Linked DNA regions of Homo sapiens. The protein of the gene in region 1 interacts with the protein of each later gene in a pairwise test. Each region holds a gene or a part of one and is shown in the gene's direction. Other genes may lie near its edges.

Region 1 (7,421 bases):
AGTTCATCAAATCCTTTCTTCTGATCTATCCAAAAACTAACATCATGCACATAACATGGAGGATACAGAGAATGACTTTTAAAGGGTTCTATTTTGCCAGGGACAAAATTTTTCAGGAAACGGTTATCAAACGTCCACAACATTCTCCAGTCAGAGATACACCAGACAAGCATGGCTAATAAGTCCAAGTTCATAGACACAAACACAAAACACTGGTCTTTATGTATAACACTAGTGGCAGATGTGATAACAGACCCAATAATTAGATCCTCAGTACAATCTGGGCTAAAATTATGAGTCTTCACACGAATCATATAATCCTTTCCATTTGACTGAAGGACAAATTTGACTAAACTGCTCAGCTTAGAGCTCTCCGGCAATGTCTGGGTCAGCAGGCTATCTAGAATGCCCTTCAGATGATCCAGCAGTGATTGAAGACAGCCATCCTTCAGATTTTGATTAACCCCAAGGATAAATAAAGTTTCATGAAATGCTGGCATTGTGAAAGGCAAAATGTGGCACTTCTGAAAGACAGGTCCACTGAGGATGTGCAGAGAACCTGAGAGGAAGTCTGGTACTTCGATGACATCCTGAACATGCACTAGGAGAGAAGGTCTAAGGCAGATCTTGGCCTGGCCACAGGTTCCTTCACAAGCTTCTTCTTTACCATCTCTTCCAGGATTCTTGAGAAGGCTAAGTTCTGAAAATGACACTAGAAAGTCTTCCACATCTTGTGATGTCCCACCAGTCAGGGACTCAGAATTTGAGTTATCTTCATGGAGACTAATCCAAAAAGCAGCTGACAGAAAGTCACAATTCCAGAAAGGAAGAACACTGGTACCTTCCTGTGGCAGCAAAGGGTAGGAACACTTCAGCCTTTTTAGCGGGAAAACTTTGCCTAATTCAGCAATGAGTTTCTCATTTATGGTTTTGATAGGATGACATGAAGGTGCTTCCAGGAAACCCCTGTTTAAACACACACAAAAATAACTTTTCTAACTTAAGATAGTAAATAATTATAATGTAGCTAGAATTAAAAATACAAATAGCTGGACAGAAAAGAATTATCTTTAAATTGATCTTGAAAGGAAACAAAGAAATCATCTACCATAAGGAGAAACAGACGTGTATTTCAGAACTCTGACAGCCACCATCCCTACAATATATCAGAAAATGTGACCATTTATAATTCTAGAGATGCTTAAGGAGGCCAGGCTGACAAATAAACATAGCACCAACATCACTAACAATTTATGCACCATCCATTCAATATATGGTTGCCATCAAGACAATCAGGATACAACTGGAGATGGAAGTGATTTCCAGCAAAATAACTGGTTACCTGTTCAACTTTCCTACAAGTGCTTCTGGTTCTGGAAAGGAAAACCACTGGTTACCCAGTTTGATCCTGAAGATTCTGGGTTGAGAACCTTCAAAAGGTAAGCTCCTGGTGAAGATATGGTTCAAAGCACCTTCTACATGAAAGGACTTATCTTGACTCCTGGCAAAATAGACACCAATATGAAGTCTGTCATTATTAAAATAAGCAAGTATTTTTAGAGACCGAATCAATTAATTGGCAGGGCCTATTGAGTCTGTCTATGAGATTTTGTTATCATTAGTGAGAGAGATGAAAACGCAGAAGGCTTAAACCTATGCTATTACCTACCTATATCCAGTGCACTTGTACCCTGCCACAGCCTTACAGCTGAATGGATACACGTCGCTTAAAATGAGCCCCCCCAGGGCTGCCATGGCAACCACTTGCCAACTGTTGTGCCATTCTCTCTGGGGCTTATCCGCAGGAGTTCCACCTTGTCCTCTACATAATGCCACGTGGACTTCTCCTTCCTCTGCAAGAACGTCTGCACAGCTAATAGGGAGAAAAGAAACACTAACTAATTATCATAAACAAGCAGAAATTACCACAGGAGTTGGCAACATACACATGGTTTGCCTGTGAAATAATTAAAATCCAATCATACCTATGTGCAAAAATCTATTAGACCTCAAAAAATGCAAAGAAAGTAGCTGGAAGTAAATAGAAGCATAAATTAAATGTTCAACCCACTCACTGATAAGATTGGCTGACCAGGGTCTGCTTTGCATTTGTGTCATTCATGCATATGTCACAGAAAGATCAATATCTGCACAGTTCCTATATATGATTCATTGCTTAGGCTGTTTCTTCCCATTTAGAAAGTTCTTTTCACTGCCCTCCTGAAATTCAAATACTAGTTTAAAATACCACCTCTGTCAAAACTTTATTGACAGCTATGCCCCATCGGACACCTCCAATAGTATCATGTCTTGTGGTATAATCATGTAAAGCACTGTTTTCAGTTCACAATAATTTTATGAGGCTGTTAGTTACTTTTTTTTTTTTTTTTTTTTTTGAGATGGAGTCTTGCTCTGTCGCCCAGGCTGGAGTGCAGTGGCACGATCTCAGCTCACTGCAACCTCCACCTCCCAAGTTCAAGCGATTCTCCTGCCTCAGCCTCCCAAGTACCTGGGACTACAGGCACGTGCCAGCACGGCCAGCTAATTTTTATATTTTTAGTAGAGGCGGGGTTTTGCCACTTTGGCCAGGCTGGTCTCAAACTCCTGACCTCAGGTGATCTGCTCACCTCGGCCTCCCAAACTGCTGGGATTACAGGCATGAGCCACCACGCCTGGCCCAGTTAGTTACTATTAATATCCCTAGTTTACAGTTGAGGAAACGGAAGCATGTAAAGATTAAGTAAGCTTGCTTAAAATAACAACTGTTGGCCGGGCGTGGTGGCTCATGCCTGTAATCCCAGCACTTTAGGAGGCCAAGGCAGGCGGATCACAAGGTCAGGAGATCGACACCATCCTGGCTAACACGGTGAAACCCCATCTCTACTAAAAATACAAAAAATTAGCTGGGCGTGGTGGCGGGCGCCTGTACTCCCAGCTACTTGGGAGGCTGAGGCAGGAGAATGGCGTGAACCCAGTAGGCGGAGCTTGCAGTGAGCCGAGATTGCACCACACCACTGCACTCCAGCCTGGGCGACAGGGCGAGACTCTGTCTCAAAAAATAAAAATAAATAAAAATAAAAAAATAACAACTGTTAAGTGGTGGGCTGGGATTTGAATCCAGGCAGTCTGGCTTCTAAGTGCACGTTCTTAGCCATTAGACTATATGGCTCTCATTATTTTGCACTGTCAAAAATAAATGATCCTCTTTTACACACCCAAGAGTACATTATTTGTACTTTCATTTAGCATTTAGGGTTTATATATCTGTCTTTCCAACTAAACTTGGGGTTCCTTTGGGGCTTTATAGTCTCTTCTAAACATATCATAGTAGCTTGCACGTGTGCCTTATGTTTGGGTACAGTAACTATGTTATGGACATCTTAAACATTTTCCTTGTGAGGGCGCTCCTTTCCTCACCTTTGGAAAAATTTGGCAAGCAGTTCCCTGTTCTTAGCTACGCCAGCTTTGCGTCCACAATGCGGGAAGATGAAATAAATTTGATCAAATTCTCTCTCGTGCAGTTCAAAGACATCTGCCAGCTGGGTGCAGTCCACACCGAAACGTACATCGATACCTGGCAAAGATAGTTTGGGGGCGCAAAATATAGACAGGAGGATGCCTCAAGACATGGAACAGAAAAACTCTTCCTAACTTAAACCGTGCAGACCAGCCCAAGTCTGGGCACAAAGCCGGCTTTATGTGAATATCCGTGGGACGATCAAGAACAATCTCCACGTGGGTTACATCCCCACGCCCCCACCCTTTCCACTTTGGGACGCGCCGGCCGCTGGGCGGGGTTTCGCAGAGGGGCGGGCTCGCTACCTCGCTCGCGCAGGCACTGCAGATTCTCCCAGGCCAGTGGATCCCGAGCCAACTCGGCCGGGCGCTGGAGGCAGGTGGCGGTAAGTTGAGTGCTCTGATCCAGGGTTTCGCTCAGAGCGGCGGCGAAGGAGAAATTCCCCTCCCCAACCAACAGGAGGCGCCGAGGGGCCATGGCCTCCACGGACTCCCGGCTCGCGTTCTCTGTGGCGCTCGTTTTACGTCACTTCCTTCACGGATCTCTCTCCGCCCCGTCTTCTCCCGTCACTAGTTGATGACGCACCCATGGCGCCTGGTTGTCTAGACGAGCCGGTGTACCGACTCCCCGGTGGATGATAACTATGAGTGCAAAAGCAAGACGCGCACTTTCCTGTCACCTCGCCCTTTCACCCCCTCGGGAAGATCAAAGTGTCTTTAGCCCAAGCATGGCCTTGAGCGACTTCATCACACCTGCATGAGGTCACAAGCAGTCACTAGCGCAGGGGGGTGAGGCGAGTTCTGGGTGAAAGAAACGGGGCGGGGCTGAGGCCAAGGAAGAGGTTGGACTGTGTCTCGCATGCTCCTGACGCAGAAGGTTTTGAACCTTTTTTCACCTCGTCTGAAATGGCTGCCTCCCAGTGTCTCTGCTGCTCAAAATTTCTCTTCCAGGTGCTTAAATCTCCTATCTTCTATTCGTTCAAGAAAGAGTATTGAGTGTCTATTGCGTGCCAGGCCACTGTGAGGGTGGTTACGATATGTGGATGAACAAAATGTGGCCTATGATTTCAATGAGCCTGCAGTCTGGTGGGGAATGCACAGAGCAAAACAGGCAACTCTGATATGGCAGGGTGTGTGCTCTGGGAGCACACAGAAGAACGTTACCAAGTTTGGGGGCGAAGAGGGTCAGAGAGTCCTTGGATGAAGTAAACCCGAGTTGAAAGCTAACAGGGTAAAAGTGCATCTTAACTGAGTCAAGAGGCGTGAAGAGGCAGAAGGAACAATATATGCAAAAGCTTGATGGAGAAACAGAATAGTTGAGTTTGGCTGAAACACAATTGGAGGGAGAGTAACAGATGAGACTGAAGAGTTAGGCAGGGGCCAGGTCATAGGGAGCGTTGTAAGCCTTTAAAAAAAATCAACTTTTATTTTACAAATGGGGGTACAGGTACAGGTTTGTTACGTGGATATATTGCACCCAGGTAGGTTGCAGGTTTGCTACATGGGTATATTGCACCTAATAGTTTTTCAACCCACACCACCCGCCCTCCCCACTCTAGTTAGTAGCCTGGAGTGTGTGTTGTTTCCATGTTTAGGTCCATGTTTGCTCAATGTTTAGCTCCCACTTATAAGTGAGAATGTCAGAGGTATTTATACCAGAGCAACTCCGTCTTGAATAGGGGCTAGGTAAATAAGGCTAAGACCTGGGCTGCATTCCCAGTAAGTTAAGGCATTCTTAGTCACAGGATGAGATAGCTCAGCACAAGATACAGGTCATAAAGACCTTGCTGATAAAACGGGTTGCAGTAAAGAAGCCAGCTAAAATCCACCAAAACCGAGATGGTGATGAGAGTGATCTCTGGTCATCCTCATTGCTACACTCCCACCAGCGCCATGACAGTTTACAAATGCCATGGCAAAGTCAGGAAGTTACCGTATATGGTCTAAAAAGTGGAGGTATGAATTAATCCACCCCTTGTTTAGTATATAATCAACAACCATAAAAATGGGCAACCAGCTGCCCTCAGGGTTGCTCTGCATATGGAGTAGCCATTCTTTATTCCTTTACTTTCTTAATAAACTTCCTTATGCTTTATAGACTCACCTTGAATTATTTCTTGTGTCTCTTGGGGTCTGGATCAGGACCCCTTCCGGTAACAAGAACATGCTGTATTTGGTTCTCTGTTCTGTTGTAAGCCATTTTAACAGACTGAATCTTACTCTGAAAACGGTGGAAAGCCACTGAAAGATTTTAAATAAGAAGATGATACAATTATACTTTCACTTTGAAAAATTCTCCTTTCCTGTGGAGAAAGGTTTGGAGAGGAACAAGGCTGATGGCATGGCAGGATAAAACAAGAGGCAACTGCAATAATGGAGACAAAGCTGACAGTGATTTGAATTGAAATTTGGCAATGGGAATGGAGGGTGGCAGTCTGATTCAAAAATCAACAAGACTTAGTGACTGGATGAAAATTAAAGACAAGTCAGAGTCAAAGATAAGCCCCAGGCTTCTGGCTTGGACAACTGAGTGGATGGTGATGTCTGTCATTCCAGCCCTAGAGACAGTTACACCTAGATCTCCAGTATGAGTACCAGGCCCATTGGACTTTGTGGCACCAGCTACTCTGGTCATCATGTTGTTTGGTAACATCAGTGCATGCATCTGTCTTCACAAAGGCAGATGGTATGAGGGTAGTTACCTGGGATGTCATCCTTCAATGCTGCATTATTGGCTTTGTTTCTGCCTGTGGAAAGGCAAGTGGGTGGTGACTCCCAAATCATGGCCACTTGCCCATGGTAATCTGGGTGATTCTTTCTTTGCTTGGAGAACTGGGAAAGCCAGGTTTGTTGACATCTTTAAAGAACATGGAACAGCCAAGTAAGGATTTCTGTGACTCTCATAAGAAATCTTCAAAGAGCTCAACCTACTCAGCATCAAGTTACTCTTCTTCAGGAAAGGTATCATCTTCCTAAGTCAGGGGGCCAGACTCACATTTTGGGGAAAAAGAAAGATTGAGCTTTTATCTTACCAAAAAAAATGAAATCAGACATTGATCATCTGGTATATGCAATCCAGATTGATTGGGAGAACAGGCAGAAGGACAGGGTACAATAATGAATAAAACAGATCCTGTCCTTAAGGGGCATACAGCTCTGTATAGGAGATATAATGCAGACTTAAAGAACTCTAATGTATGGTAAAAAGTTATAAATACAGGGAAAGATAAAGTTTTATGTGAGTTGAAAGAGAAGCTAACTTCAGGGAAGGCATCATTTGAGCTAGAAGGAAGGAAATGATCATTTATTACTCATTTATTGTGTTATCTAGTTACTCAACTCTCACTTCTTTTTGTTCTCTTTGACTGTAGCAGTGCTTTTAGTCCCTCAATGCCTACATCTCAAAATTACCTTAAAAATTTAGCTAATTCTCCATATTGTATTGGGAATACTGAAGTTTTTCCTGTCTCTTCACGGGGCCTGGGGAGCGGGGGTGTGGATTTAATCCATGTAGTCACCCACTGTTGCTGATTGAAAGAATGGATCAAAGGGTCCCAGGACTTAGAGAAGAAGAAACAGAACCATAACATAGCCTGGATCATTAGTACGGTGTGCTTGTGTTATACCTGGCTATGTAAAACAAGGGCAGGAAAAGATGCTTTTTCTCTTCTCTGGTTTATGCAATAAGCTTTTCTATTCTTGTCTTTTCCCAGAGACAGAACCTCGCCTGTTTCCTCACAAACCCACACTGTGGCAGCCTTGTTAATGCAGATGGCCATGGTGAAGTGTGGACAGATTGGAATAATATGTCCAAGTTTTTCCAGTATGGATGGCGATGCACCACTAATGAGAATACCTATTCAAACCGTACCCTGATGGGCAACTGGAACCAGGAAAGATATGAC
Region 2 (7,106 bases), on another chromosome or scaffold:
ATGTGAATGTGCAGTTTTTAAAGCCAGATCACACTGTTTTCCAATCCAGAAATCCTTGAAAACTCAAGGATCTCATGGATCAGGTATATTATTTAGGGATAATGTAAAGCTACAGCAGGTGAGAAAGACACTGGGCTCCTCGGACACACAGAGAAGACATCACTCTTTATGTGAATCCCATATGTCACCCTGGCCACACCGTGAGAGGGTCCTGCCTTCCTACCCCCTTCCTACAACCATACAGGACACTCCAGGGAAAACTGGGCTAGAACCACTACTGTTTCTGCCACCTTGCTCAGGCCTCCAAGTCTGCAGGATGCAGACACTCTGTTTTCTCTATTTCTAAGTATGCTATCAGTCTGAGATGCACAGGCAAGCATTTATCTGCAAAGCCACAATAAAGACCCTATATTCAAAGAAAAATGAAATCTTGAAAATATGCCACTTTCACCATGCCATTCTATTGCTCAAAAGTCTTCATTGATTCTGCATTGCCTACAGAATATAGTTTATACTTCAGACTACTGAGGTGACCTCATCCCTCCTCATCCCTCCTCTCCATTTCTCAGCCTCATTGTTCTACCACATGGACCTTTCTATACAGTCATGCTGGCCAATTCACCACCTTCTGAATATTCCTGTGATTTCCCTGGTTGCACACATATCCTCCCTTGCCTGGAATGTACTACTGTCCATCACTCGTCTATTCAAATGCTACTTTCCATGGCTCAGCTCAAATGCCACCTCCTCCCTGAAGTCTCTTTACTAAAATTCAACTATCAGGATTTCATGCTTTTCTTCCTCTGTGAGAAAAGATGTCATATTTTCCTCTGCTTTGAATACCTCACATTGTCTGATATCCATTCTTAATAAATATTTGTTAACTGATTAATTCTAAATAAACTCCAAAAAAGGGTTACATTTGCAAAGCTCTCAAAAGTAAGGTAATGATCTGTAGCTGTTATAGCCACACAATGGAAACTTCAGAGCATCTAGTATGTTGTCATTGGATTCCTTTCCTTCCACAGAAGACCAAACTAGGTCATTTCAAACCTCAGTCACCTTCAGAGAGATTCTAGGAAGGGCACACTAAGAGTCAGCAAAGAGACGACATTCCTGGATTCCTGACTTGTTGTCCAGATCTGCTACTGAATCAGATTCAGGTAAGTGTGAATGGGAGAAATGAACTAATTATTAGTGCCATCCAAAAAAATGAAAGCAGTGCTTTTGTTATGTTGGCTGGTTTGAAAGGAAGAAAGAATTAAAAATAAGAAGAGAAATTCAGCCTACAGCCATCAATTGTCTTTTCTTCAAATGTGCTTTTCTTGCCTTTCTGGTATTTTTTTTTTTTCATACGTATGTGATGGAACTGGAATGTTTGAGAAGAATTAACTTAGGATAGAAAAGATGATTTGTTGTAATCTGATAAGGGTATTTACTAACATACTTTATCACCCAGCTTCTCCTCTAAAAGTCCCATTTTGTTTCCCCAGAACACATTTCTTTGCTAAATTAAAAAGTTCCAAAAGTGGTATTGTGCTTGTAAAATCACATCTGATTTCAGCGTTATGTCCAAGAATAGATAATGCAGTCCTATTTCTAGGTCTAGTAACAAGTGTTACTCGTTTGACAGACTTCACTCAGTAGATTTGGCCACATCCTCAAAAGACATACTATTTGGGAAGAGGAAAACTGAGTTATGGAGGGTAAGAAGAGAGTAAAACCAAACAGCAAACGGGCAGAAAGTTGATGTGAAAGTTTTAGCTTTCTAAGCATTCATTAAACTAACAAATGCTGACCATTCTCTATTGTCAGTCCTCAATATTGCTGTTTATTCAATTAGCGAGACTATACATATTTATTGAGCACTTATTTTTTACTAGCTAGTAAGCCACTAGTTATAACTTTGTGCAGCCAAAAAATTATTGAATATAATTTGAATAGGGAACATAGAGATAAAAAATTATAAAAAGGCGAATAATCAATAATGCAAAACATCGTGAGTAAATTTGAAAACTCTGGTGTCAAATTTGTGTTTACGATAAAAATTTTAAATTTTTTATTTCATATATGATTGTTCTTGCCTCATATCCCGGGCACATGGGAGTTTATTTCGTTGACTCCCAGACGTAACCAATTGAGAATAAGCTTAGTTACAAAGGAAGTAATTGAGGCTTTGAGCTCTTGAAGCTAACAGATGGAAATACGTATGTAAAAACCTAAGTGCTGTGTAAACTCGGCACATATGGACGTAGGTATTATTATTATCCAAATGGCACTACTGGGTATTTTCTTAATAGATTCTTTTAAAATGCTTTTTTATAGTTGTGGGCCTTTTTTAGACGAATAGTTCTTAAGAAGAGGAGGGGATTTTGTCCCTCAGCGACATTTGGCTAAATCTAGAGACATTTTTTATTTTCACAGCTGGGTGGCGAGTGCGGAGTGGGTACTGCTACTGGCATCTGGTGGGTAGAGGCCACGGACACTGCTTAACATTCTACAGTGCACAGGAGAGGTCCCTACAACAGAGAAATATTCTCCCGAAAGTTTCAGTAGTGCTAAGTTTGAGTAATTCTGCTCTTCACCATCAAGTTTCCTTCTCTTGGAGCCTGCTACCAGCCAATGACATCAGGATCTAACCTGAGACGAACCTAGGTGTTCTATACGGCAGCCTGGTGTACTGAAGAGTGCCTAAGGTTTGCAAGCTCGCTAGCTGTGGCTCCCCCTCTCGCTAGCTTGAGCTAGTTATTTAAACCCTTAGAGATGCCTTTCTTTAAATTAAAAAAAAAATAAATAAATCTGCACAATATGAATCATACCTACCTCATAAGGTTGCGGTGAACACTGAATGAAGTACATATATACATATTCAGTACAAGTTCGTTCCTTTATTATTTCCAGCCTACCCATCCCTCCCCCCTCCCATTCCCGCCTTTTCCCCCTCCCGGTACTGTATCTCCCACCCCAAGTCTCAGGTTCTCTTTTAAAATGCTTTAATTCCTTTGGTGGCAAAAATCAGGCTTGGGCTAGGAAGTGAGTCACCACTCAGCAGCGAAAGGAGCTTGTTTTTCTTTCTCTGAATGCATTTCTTAGTAATTTCAGACTGATCCTTTAGCCACTTGTTGGTTGAATCCTCTCTTAATGTTTAAGACACACTGAGAAAGAACTGTGGCACCAAGACGTTTTCCGATTGTTAGGAATGAGAGTGTTTTAAATACCGAAAATAACCAGAGGGCAGAGAGCTCTGAAATCCTACGTTACATAAGCAGATGCTGGAAGACCCAGGCTGGTTCTGAGGTTCCTGTCTCCACAAGCAAGTCCACGCGAATCCTCCCCGTTGCTGGATTTACTTTAATGCTGCCGAAGTCTCAAAAGGGGCCTCTGGATGCTCAGAGGACAGGCAGCGCAGGAACTTCCTTGTCAAATAAGCCTTGCCTGGAGGGAGAGGGATGGGGCGATTTTCACCCGCGGGCGGTGGGACGGGGCTGAGGGCTGGGGGCTGCCTGGCTCCAGGCCATGTCAGTGCCTCCAGCTCCAGGTCCGGGTCCACCCTGAACTTTGGCTCTGCTGCCCGGACGCCCAGCTTCACCTCCCTTGCCTCGCTTAGAAACCCTTCAGTTCTCCCGGACCGCTATGTAGCTTTTCAAATTCCCAAATTCACAGAAAACACCTTCAAAAGTCACAATCACCCACAACTCCCTCTGCCAAAAAATGTCATGCAAAAACGGAAAATACTCCGATTCCCCTTTCCTCCCAGACACTCTCTCTCTCTCTGTCTCTGCTATTCATTTTCTCCCCCACCTTTCCCCATCTGTGGTCAAGATCCCTTTCACTATTTCTAGTTCCCTCTCTTTTTTCCCTTCTCCCTCTCTCTCCCTTTTCCACTCCTTCCTCCGTTGTGACCGCGCTCCCCCTCCCCCCGCCCCGTCGTCTCTCCTCCGCCTTGCGGGCTCCAGTCTCTGCCCGCCCCTCCCCAGAGAAGAGTGTCCAGCTCCTCCAGAGGCTGCCCGCCCGCCGCTCCTTCCCTGCCCACCTACTATGAGGAGCAGCTCCTCCCACCTGCCCATAAAAGCCAAGTGCATGTTACCAGCAGCGGATCACAGCCCTTCCCCGATCCTCTCCGTGGGAGCCAGCGAGCCTCTCTCCCTGATCTTACGTGCTCAAGGTAAGACAGCACTTCTGCAGGCAGCTCACCTACCAGGGGTTGCTATGGGGGAATAAGTCACCCTCTGGCCAACGCGTTTGCTGTTTGGTTAGAGCTGATTCTTACGGATGCGCGATCCGCTGCTCCTTTAACTAGCAACTGGTTTGAAAACAAACTTCTGTTTGAATGGTAAAATAAAAGCTCCTTCAGGGAAGAAACAGCAGCATAAATATTGCGAAACCTTTCTCTTTTTAAATCACTTTTTCTCCTGTTGCTGACTGTTGCTTAGGTTAAAATGTATCTGTTTGGGGTGTTGTACTGACGTTTTTCACTGTACATATTTCACACATCAGTGGGGGCAAGGAAAACGTTGTCCCATTGTCAAAAATGTACTTTAAAAGAACACAGTTAACTTCCTAAAAATAGCACAGTCAAAAGGTCTGCTAACAATTTTGTGATGTTTTCCAAACCCCCAAGACAGCTTCTGTGAGTCCTTTAAAAAAATATCTTTCCAGGTTTTAGCGCTTGGAAAAAAATGATGTGAACGGGTGCCCTTTGCACGGGGACAGTAAGTAATCAGGTGGCTGGTAGATAGGAAGGAACAAATCCAAATTCACAAGCCAGGGTAGAATGTGCTCTCTCACCAGGCTATCTTTTCACGACATCCTAAAATGAGAATTACGATGGAACTAAGAAAGTGTATAAAAGAACTTCATGAATTTCTGTACACACACCTAAACATAAAGTGTTTCAATATGTTTCACAGTAAGAGAATAATACAGGCCAGATTATACAATACTTCTGTGCACACCAGATGGTTGTAAAGAAAGATCAGCGAGAAAGGCTTTGGAAGTTTTAATCCTTCTTTCCACCTTTTTTCCCCCGCATTTAGTAAATCACAACCTACCTGACTGGCATCCAATTATCAGAGATATTCAGTGTTTAAGCTACCCTCTTTAAAAGAAAATGATCTCTTCTTATTCCTAAGGTAGAATAAATGTGCACCTGTGAAAGGAAAAACATACTCCACAGCCACTTCTGTAAAACCAGACACTTGGTCCATGAAGTTTGCCATCAAATTCTGTGGGTTGTGTGGGATGAAACTCTCTCAAGTGGGAGAAAAACCCTCTTCAAATGTTTCCTCTGGGGAATTGCTCAAGACCACTTAGAGAAGGCAAACCAAAAGTACCAGTCAGGAAACCAAACCACTCTTTTAGCCCTTAAGGTTCTTAAAGTAAGAAGAGAAATGTTTCACTTTTTTATTTTTTTGTTTGTTTATATTATCTCATGTGGAAAGAAAAAACTCACCGAAGCTGTATGAAATTCTCCCCTATTAAAGAAACAAGACTCATTAGAAATTTAACTTAGGTCTTCCAAACCATTTCTCCTTAGCTTTTGCATATCAAAAGTAATAAAAATATTTAAAAGTTCTGCTTGAGATGGAGAGGATTCAATGCTGTTACTCAAATGCAAGAGTTATATATAAAGCTTCTGTCACGTTAAATTTTTCTTCATTGGAAAAAAATATTGCAAGAAGTGCAGTTTCCTTTAAGCAAATTATATAAAATTACTATTGGCCAAGATAGTATGTGACCTGAGCATATTAACATACCTTTTATCTCATGCCACAATGCAGACTGCTTGCTTTATATCTGATGCACATAGGTAATCAACCATGACAAGAGTACAGGTATGGGACAAGGCCAGACCAAGTATGTGGCACATTCAAGTTAATTCTTCTTTTATGGTAGTGCCTGACTCACACCCATTATCACAAGGATGAAAATACGCTGCTTCATTCACCAGATCCCCTTGAGGGAAGTTATCTTTTCTTGGGGTGGAGGGGGAAATGCTCCCAGTTTAAATGAGCTTCCAGTTATTCCTAAGTTTGGGGATAAAAGTATTCTCCAAGGGTTTACTTCTGCTTTCTCTGGCAATTAATCCACCGGACCAGCTATGGACCGTTAAACAGTAACTGCCTTCCCTATGTCCCATCAAGTTCAAGCCCCTAAATAACTGAGTGAGATCATCTTAGATTGCTCATGATCTAAGTTTCCCAGGAGCAAAGCTATCCTTTCTCCATAGGGTACATACCAAGCAAGATGACACTGCTCTTCTTAAGCTTTTAGAAAAATCAGTGTCGAAGTTTCATGTAGTCGCCCCCAAATCTCCCCTTCTGCATGGGATGTGGATACTTCACGTGAGTCTCCTCTTTTTGCCATTATATAGCTGCCTCTTGATCAAGTCCATGACTATACCCAACCAATGCCATTGAGGCAGACTTGGGAGGACTTCTTAATGTTTCTCAGAAAAGATAAGATGAGAAGCTGCCGCTTTCACTAGAGACACAAGAAGGGAGCTCTACTGATTTTGAGGGCTTGCTGATCCTACAGAAATGTGCATTTTAGATGTTCTACTACTGTCAAAATTATAAAATGATATCCTTTTCATGATCAGAAAACATATGCCACTTTATTCCTATTTATGAAATAAAAATCAAGGAGAAGAGGATTGGGGTGAAAAGGGACTTGAAAGAGAAGCTGGAGGAATCACAGAAGTGCCCTAGGAGAAAAGCAAGATTAGGAGCTCTGTTACGAAACGCAACTTCTCCCAACCCTCATTTATGTGAACATGAGGGGATGGGGAAGAGCAAAAATCCATGTCTGCTCTTGTCTTTTTATTTGTTTGTTGTTTTTTAATCAATGAGAGTATAAGATCCATCTCTACTATGCCCTTCTTCTTAGCCCTCCTTCTTTAGCAGAAAAGAACAGCTTGGTTCTAATGATGAAAATGATTTCAGGTTTGCCCCATATTTAAAAACCCACAGTAATTTGCTAGTCATAATTCTAAAAGCTATACTATGAGTTAAAATAAAAAACTCCTTAAAACATGTTTTTAACTAACAGATGGGTCACGTCAACAAAACCAACCCTAAGTCTCCTGAAAAGTGTAATGTTGAGTG
Region 3 (7,033 bases), on another chromosome or scaffold:
GTGGAGACGGGGTTTCCCCATGTTGGCCAAACTCCTGACCTTATGTGATCCTCCCACCTTGGCCTCCCAAAGTGCTGGGATTAGAGGCATGAGCCACTGTGCCCAGCTGACAGCCCTCTCTAAATCTTTAAAAATTCAGTCAGGCGTGGTGGCTCATGGCTGTAATCTCAGCACTTTAGGAGGCTGAGGCAAGAGGAATGTGTGAGCCCAGGAGTTTGAGACCAACTTGGGCAATATGGTGAGACCCTATCTTGACAGAAAATACAAAAATCAGCCTGGCATGGTGGTGCACGCTTGTAGTCCCAGCTACTCAGGAGGCTGAGGCAGGAAGATCACTTGAACCCAGGAGGTCGAGGCTGCAGTGAGCTATGATCACGCCACTGTACTCCAGCCTGGGAGACACTGTCTCAAAAAATAAATAAATAAAATCTTTAACAATTCTTCAGCTTATCCGCCTACCTTCTGGGGCTTCTTGGGTCTCTTCCCAGAAACTTTCTTCGTCTGTAAGCCCGTTTATTGTATGCAATTGTTTAAAAAACACAAATGGGTGCATATTCTCATATTCTCTACCCTCTATTTTGAACGTTCCTTTTTTTTCTTTTTTTCAGACCGAGTCTCAGTCTGTCACCCAGGCTAGTGCAATGGTGCAATTTTGGCTCACTACACCCTCTGCCTCCCAGATTCAAGCGATTCTCCTGCCTCAGCCTCCCGAGTAGGTGGATTACAGGTGTGCACCGCTGCACCCAGCTAATTTTTGTATTTTTAGTAGAGACGAGGTTTCACCATGTTGGCCAGACTGGTCTTGAACTCCTGATCTCAGGTGATCCACCTGCCTCCGCCTCCCAAAGTGCTGGGATTATAGGCATGAGCCGCCTTGCCTGGCTCAAAGTTCCTTTTTGGTTTAACAATAGATCTAGGCCACTGTGAGTCTTCCTCATTCCTTCTAGGGCTACCTAGTGTTCCGGGGTTATTTAACCAGCCCCCTCCTACCAGGCAGTTCTTTTGTCTCTGGCCCTTTGCTACGTATATTAGTTTAAAGTTCACTTTGCAAGTGGCCAAGCCTGTTTCCCTCATTTCCAGGTTCCCAGGGGGCAGACATCCTGCTGCAATTTCAGAAGTCAGCACACTCTTCTCTCTCCTGTCTAAAATACAAAAGTCCATGCCCCCCACTCTCCCTCTTGATACTGTCCTATTTTACTTCTTTTCACAACCAGAACTCTTTATTTTTCCCAAATAAAAATAGTCCGTCTTTTCAGATTTTAAAAATGGAACTCTGGCCGGATGCGGTGGCCCTCACCTGTAATCCCAGCACTTTGGAAGGCTGCAGTGGGCAGATTACCTGAGGTCAGGAGTTTGAGATCAGCCTGGCTGACATGGTGAAACTCTGTCTCTACTAAAAATACAAAAATTAGCCCGGATGCGGTGGCTCACATCTGTAATCCCAGTACTTTGGGAGACCGAGGTGGGCAGATCACGAGGTCAGGAGTTCAAGACCAGCCTGGCCAACATGGTGAAACCCTGTCTCTACTAAAATACAAAAATTAGCTGGGCATGGTGGCATCCGCCTGTAATCACAGTTACTCGGCAGGCTGAGGAAGAATTGCTTGAACCTGGGAGGCGGAGTTTGCAGTGAGCTGAGATTGTGCCATTGCACTCCAGCCTGGGCGACAGAGCAAGACTCCGTCTCAAAAATATATATATATACAAAAATTAGCTGAGTGTGGTGGTGCATGCCTGTAATCCCAGCTACTCGGGAGGTGAGGCAGGAGAATCACTTGAACCTGGGAGGCGGAGGTTGCAGTGAGCCGAGATTGTGCCATTTCACTCCAGCCTGGACAACAAGAGCAAAACTCGTCTCAAAAAAAAAAAAAAGGAAAATAAAAATCCCTGATAAAGGATCAATGACCTTAGGATAATGTCATTCCAGGTAAGTATCTTTAACTGGGTACTTGGTCCTCCAAGATTCAGAGGACCTTGATCCCCCTGAAACTGTATACATAATATTCAACATACATAGTATGTGCACACATGTGCAAACACTCACATTATCTAAAATTCATCATAATCTTACCCCGGCTTCTCCCCACACTCCTCAGATCCTGCTATAGCCTAGTGCATTTTCTCCTTCCTCACTCCCTTCCCTCCATGTGTCCTCTGCCCTGGCCACCAGGAACTTTGTGCTGCCTCCGGAGTGCATGAGGCACTTTCACATCTCTCTTGCTTTACAAGAGCTTCCCTATGCTCCAACTGGCAAATTTCTCTATGGACTGAAAAACCCACATAGCCTTTATCTGTCTTGTGATGTCTTCTCCCCACCCTCAAGTTAGGCATACCCTTCTATGCCCTCCTTTATCCAAACATTTTCCCCACTATATCGTAATTGTGTGTTTAAGTGCCGGACTTTCCAACTAGATACAAAGCTTTCCCAGGAAAGAAATCCTTTTCTTTTCTTCTTTCTTTCTTTTCTTTTCTTTTCTTTCTTTTTTTTTTTTTTTTTTTTGAGACAGATTCCCACTGTGTCGTCCAGGCTGGAGTGCAGTGGCACAATCTTGGCTCAGTGCAACCTCCACCTCCAGGGTTCAAGTGATTCTCTTGCCTCAGTCTTCCAAGTAGCTGGGATTACAGGCACGCGCCACCACACCCAGTTAATTATTATTATTATTATTATTTTTTTTTTTTTTTGAGACGGAGTCTCGCTCTGTCACCCAGGCTGGAGTGCAGTGGCACAATCTCGGCTCACTGCAAGCTCCGCCTCCCGGGTTCACGCCATTCTCCTGCCTCAGCCTCCCGAGTAGCTGGGACTACAGGAGCCCACCACTACGCCCGCTTAATTTTTTTTTTTTTTTGTATTTTTAGTAGAGACGGGGTTTCACCGTGGTCTCGATCTCCTGCCCTCGTGATCCGCCCGCCTCGGCCTCCCAGAGTGCTGGGATTACAGGCGTGAGCCACTGCGCCCGGCCTCCACACCCAGTTAATTTTTGTATTTTTAGTAGAGACGGGGTTTCACCATGTTGGCCAGGATGGTCTCAATCTCTTGACCTTGTGATCTGGCTGCCTCGGCCTCCCAAAGTGCTGGGATTACAGGCGTGAGCCACCGCTCCCGGCGAGAAACCTTTTCTTTTTCTTTTTTCTTCTTCTTCGTCTTTTTTTTTTTTTCTTTTGAGAGGGATTCCTGTTCCGTCGCCCAGGCTGGAGTGCAATGGCGCGATCTTGGCTCACTACAGCCTCTGCCTCCCGGGTTCAAGCGATTCTCTTGCCTCAGCCTCCCGAGTAGCTGGGATTACAGGCACGAGCCACCACGCCCGGCTAGTTTTTTTTGGTATTTTTAGTAGAGACGGGGTTTCGCCATGATGGCCAGGCTGGTCTGGAACTCCCGACCTCAGGTGATCCGCCCACCTCTGCCTCTCAAAGTGCAGGGATTACAGGCATGAGCCACTGCGCCCAGCCAAGAAACCATTTCTGATTCACCTATTCACTCCCGCACTCCCACTACACAGTAGCTAAATAAATAAATAAATATTAAAAATAAATAGGAAAGAAAGAGAGAAAAAAAGAAAAGAAAAAGACAAAAATTTAAATTTAAAAAGGTTGTGCTCGATGGCTCACACTTGCAACCCCAGTGCTTTGGGAGGCTGAATGAAGCAAGAGGATCGCTTGAGGCCAGGAGTTTGAGATCGGCCTGAGCAACGTTGCAGCATTGCAAAACCCCCATCTGTACAAAAAAGAAAAATAAAATTAATTTTAAAAACAAAAAAAGAGAAACAGTAGCACATGTATGTACTGGCACCATGTATGTACTAGTAAAAACTAGTTAAAATTAAGTCAGTAATTAATGAAGGAATAAGTCAATGAGTGAGCAGGCGAAGGAAGAAAACATAGACCGGAGCAGGTGCGCCTTGGGTTGAGCCCTTCCCCGCTGAGCCCCGCCTTCTGCCCGCCCCTGGGCCCTACCGGGACTACATTTCCCAGAAGGCCGCACGCCCCGGGCATGCGCAGCGGCTCGCTCGGAAGCTGCGACGCCGAGTTTCACTCTGGCTGCCTTCTCCTGAGAGTCGGAGCCACAGCCAGAGCCCTGCCCAGGCCGAGCCGGAGCTGCAGCCCGAGCGCGGTGGTGCCCTCAGCCCCGTCCTCTTGTCCTCCTCAGCCTCGGTGAGAGGGCGGGAAGGCCACCTGCGCGTCGCTAGGGCTGCGGTCCCAGGGGCGCGGGGTGGCGCGGGGAGCCGGAGCCTAGCTGGGACCGGAAGGGGGCGGGCGTGGGTGTGAGGGGGACCGACGGCCGGGGCGGCGGGGACACCCGGGGGTCCCGGGAGATCGGGGGTGTCGGGGGGATCGGTCTCCGGGATCAAGGTCCTGAGGGCGAGAGTTGGGGGACTTGGGAGGCGCCGGCAGCTTTGGACGGGACAGGGTGCCGGGTGCGAAAGGGGACGTTCGGATGAAGGCTGAGGGGCTCGCAGGCGGAGGGGCGCGGTTCCGGGTCGCTCGGAAGGCGCGCACCCCTTCCCAAAGTACCCAGAGGAGGGGGTGACGAGATTGCCACCGGCTCCCTGACGAGGGGTTGGTCCTGCTGGGGTCTACCCCCAGGTGAAGGGACTCACTGGGCCGGGGGTTGTACTTTGGAGGAGTTTGCTTCCTAACTCTGCTTCCCTGCTTTCCTGTGGGGGGTCTTCCCAGGAGTTCCTGGGGCCCTGGGTCACTTTTTGGGGTGCGTAAGGGGTGCCGAAAAAGATTTAGAACTCGGTTCCCTTTTCTGGAGCTGCGCTTTCATCGCGACTGTCTCAGCCAGCTGCCCTCCTCCTCCAAGCTGGCTCCACTTCTCTAAGCGCCAACAGCGATGGAAATAAATAGCATGTGTACAGACGCCTGGACCCTTGAGAAACTCAGAATATTTCTGCATGCCTTCCTAGCTCCTCTAGCGCTCTAGAAGGTAGACTTTCTGGTAGCCACCATCCGGGCTTAAGCCATCCGGATAGCAAGCCCTCTGATTCGGTTGCTCTGTGACCTTAAATATTTACCCTCTCTGGTGTGTTGATTTCCTGGATGCTTAGCTGCCAGACTGGCTTATGAAGTCCTTTTAGAGTTTTCTGTAAAAGGGCTCAGGCCAGGCACGGTGGCTCATGCCTGTAATCCCAGCCCTTTGGGAGGCCGAGGTGGAAGGATCATTTGAGTCCAGGAATTTGAGACAAGCCTGGGAAACGAAGAGGATTCCTGAGATCACTGTCTCTATAAAAAATCAGATGGGCGTGTTGGTGGGTGCCTGTAGTCCCAGCTACTTGGGAGGCTGAGGCAGGAGGATCGCTTGAGCCCAGGAGTTGGAGGCTGCAGTGAGCTGTGATCACACCACTGCACTGCAGCATGGGCGACAGAGGGAGACCCCGTCTCAAAAAACAAAAAACAAACAAACTAAAAAAACGAACTTTTTTTTTTTTTTAAGAAAAGGGCTCAGAGCCAGGCGTGGTGACTCGAGCCTATAATCCCAGCTACTCGGGAAGCTGAGGCAGGAGAGTAGCTTGAACCTGGGAGGCGGAGGCTGCAGTGAGCCGAGATCACGCCACTGCACTCCAGCTTGGGTGACAGAGCAAGACTCCGTCTCCAAAAACTAATAATAATAAAAAATTTTAAAAAGAGCTCAGGGTTTTTTTGTTTGTTTGCTTTTTGTTGTTTCTTCAACCATCTCCTTGATTGTTAAGTGGGTGGAGGAAGACTGTTGTACCTCCTGCTCCACCCAGGCTATTGGAAAATAAATCTGGTGATTTTCAGTCCCCAGGCACAGCACACGGATCCAACATCTGTACCTTTGTTTTTACTAACTGCTGTTTCTTAATTTAAAACCTGATCATCTTCTTCCTCGTTGGCAAAGGTGCCTTGGAATTTGTGTCGCTGAGTCAGCAAGCCTTTCAGATTTGCCCGGTTTTTGTTGTTTGTGGTTTGTATCAAGATGGGAACTCAAACAAGTCATTCCTCCTAAGGAGCTGGTGTCTTCATCCAGAAGGGACAGTTTGTGCCAGCTCTCCAGAGAGAAAAGGTGAGAGCCATGGGGACTTGACCTTGCTGCCTTCTCTATCTGGTGCAGAGAAGGTGGGGATTGGGGAGGGTGGAATTTGAGGTCTGCAGGATAAACGTGTGCCCTGGGAGTTGACTGTTGATTGCCACCTGTCTCAAATAAATTGCAGTGGCGTCTTGCCACTGCTTCTCCTGTTTAACTAACTAGTCTTAGAAGATGCTTTCCACTTTAAGACATGCTTTATGGGATAGAAGACACAAGTCACGATTTCTGCATTTGAAGTGGCAGTTTTCATTTCTTTTGTTGCATAAACCCTTACTGGGTGCCAGATAAGATCTCTGTCTTTTGGGAGTGCATTGTTTGGTGGAAAAGACAAAGCAGAGTCAGTGACAAGGTGTTGTCAGTGTGATATATACTGAGCTGGGAGAAATCACAAGGCTCTCCTACCCACATCCAGAAAGGGGACGGTTAGAGGGAAGGTCAGGAAGGCTCCTGGAAGGTGGTAGTTGAGGGGGGTTGTGAAGGAGGAGTAGGACTTAGAAAGTGGGGCACAGTCACCTGGGAGAGGAGTCAGCGTTTGCAAAGTCATGAAGCTACCGGGACACAGCTGGGCTACTGTAAGTAGCTTAGTATGTAATAGAGGAGGCTGGAAAAGCAGGCAGAGGGCTCTGAGCGAGGAGGGTTATGTGGGCCATGCCAAGACTCGGGAGTGGAAGGATTTTAGGAGATTTCTATGAGGGTCATTTTATTAATTATTTTTTTGAGTTGGGGTCTGCTTCTGCTGCCCAGGCTGGAGTGCAGTGGAGTGATCATAGTTCACCACAGCCTCAAATTCCTGGGCTCTGGGGTAGCTGAGGTGCCTACCACCATACCCGACTAATAATTTTATCTAGAGACAGTGCCGCTCTACGTTGTCCAGGCTGGTCTCTAACTCCTGGCCTCAAGGGATCCTCCCATCTCAGCCTCCCAAAGTGCTAGGATTACAGGCCTGAGCCACCGTGCCTGGCCTCGTGAGGGACATTTTAATGGAGC

Evidence for each region. The genes of interacting proteins can lie anywhere in the genome.
Region 2: the proteins of CFAP68 (region 1) and COL8A1 interact in binary tests that used the Homo sapiens proteins (3 or more experiments, as listed by UniProt).
Region 3: the proteins of CFAP68 (region 1) and DTX2 interact in binary tests that used the Homo sapiens proteins (3 or more experiments, as listed by UniProt).

Annotation. Positions count from the first base shown.
Region 1 is NC_000011.10:111,875,139-111,882,559, forward strand, and holds the start of CFAP68 (cilia- and flagella-associated protein 68), read left to right. Parts: upstream 1-4,402; 5' UTR 4,403-4,422; coding exon 4,423-4,467; intron 4,468-6,346; exon of another isoform or gene 6,347-6,384; coding exon of another isoform or gene 6,385-6,477; intron 6,478-7,229; coding exon 7,230-7,421. Other genes in the region: FDXACB1 (ferredoxin-fold anticodon-binding domain-containing protein 1), read right to left, coding at 1-966, 1,343-1,501, 1,670-1,873, 3,418-3,574, 3,823-3,994. UniProt on the Homo sapiens protein: Microtubule inner protein (MIP) part of the dynein-decorated doublet microtubules (DMTs) in cilia axoneme, which is required for motile cilia beating.
Region 2 is NC_000003.12:99,634,500-99,641,605, forward strand, and holds the start of COL8A1 (collagen alpha-1(VIII) chain precursor), read left to right. Parts: upstream 1-4,094; 5' UTR 4,095-4,165; exon of another isoform or gene 4,166-4,181; intron 4,182-7,106. UniProt on the Homo sapiens protein: Macromolecular component of the subendothelium. Major component of the Descemet's membrane (basement membrane) of corneal endothelial cells. Also a component of the endothelia of blood vessels.
Region 3 is NC_000007.14:76,457,688-76,464,720, forward strand, and holds the start of DTX2 (probable E3 ubiquitin-protein ligase DTX2), read left to right. Parts: upstream 1-4,021; 5' UTR 4,022-4,149; intron 4,150-4,252; exon of another isoform or gene 4,253-4,924; intron 4,925-5,757; exon of another isoform or gene 5,758-5,857; 5' UTR 5,858-6,022; intron 6,023-7,033. UniProt on the Homo sapiens protein: Regulator of Notch signaling, a signaling pathway involved in cell-cell communications that regulates a broad spectrum of cell-fate determinations.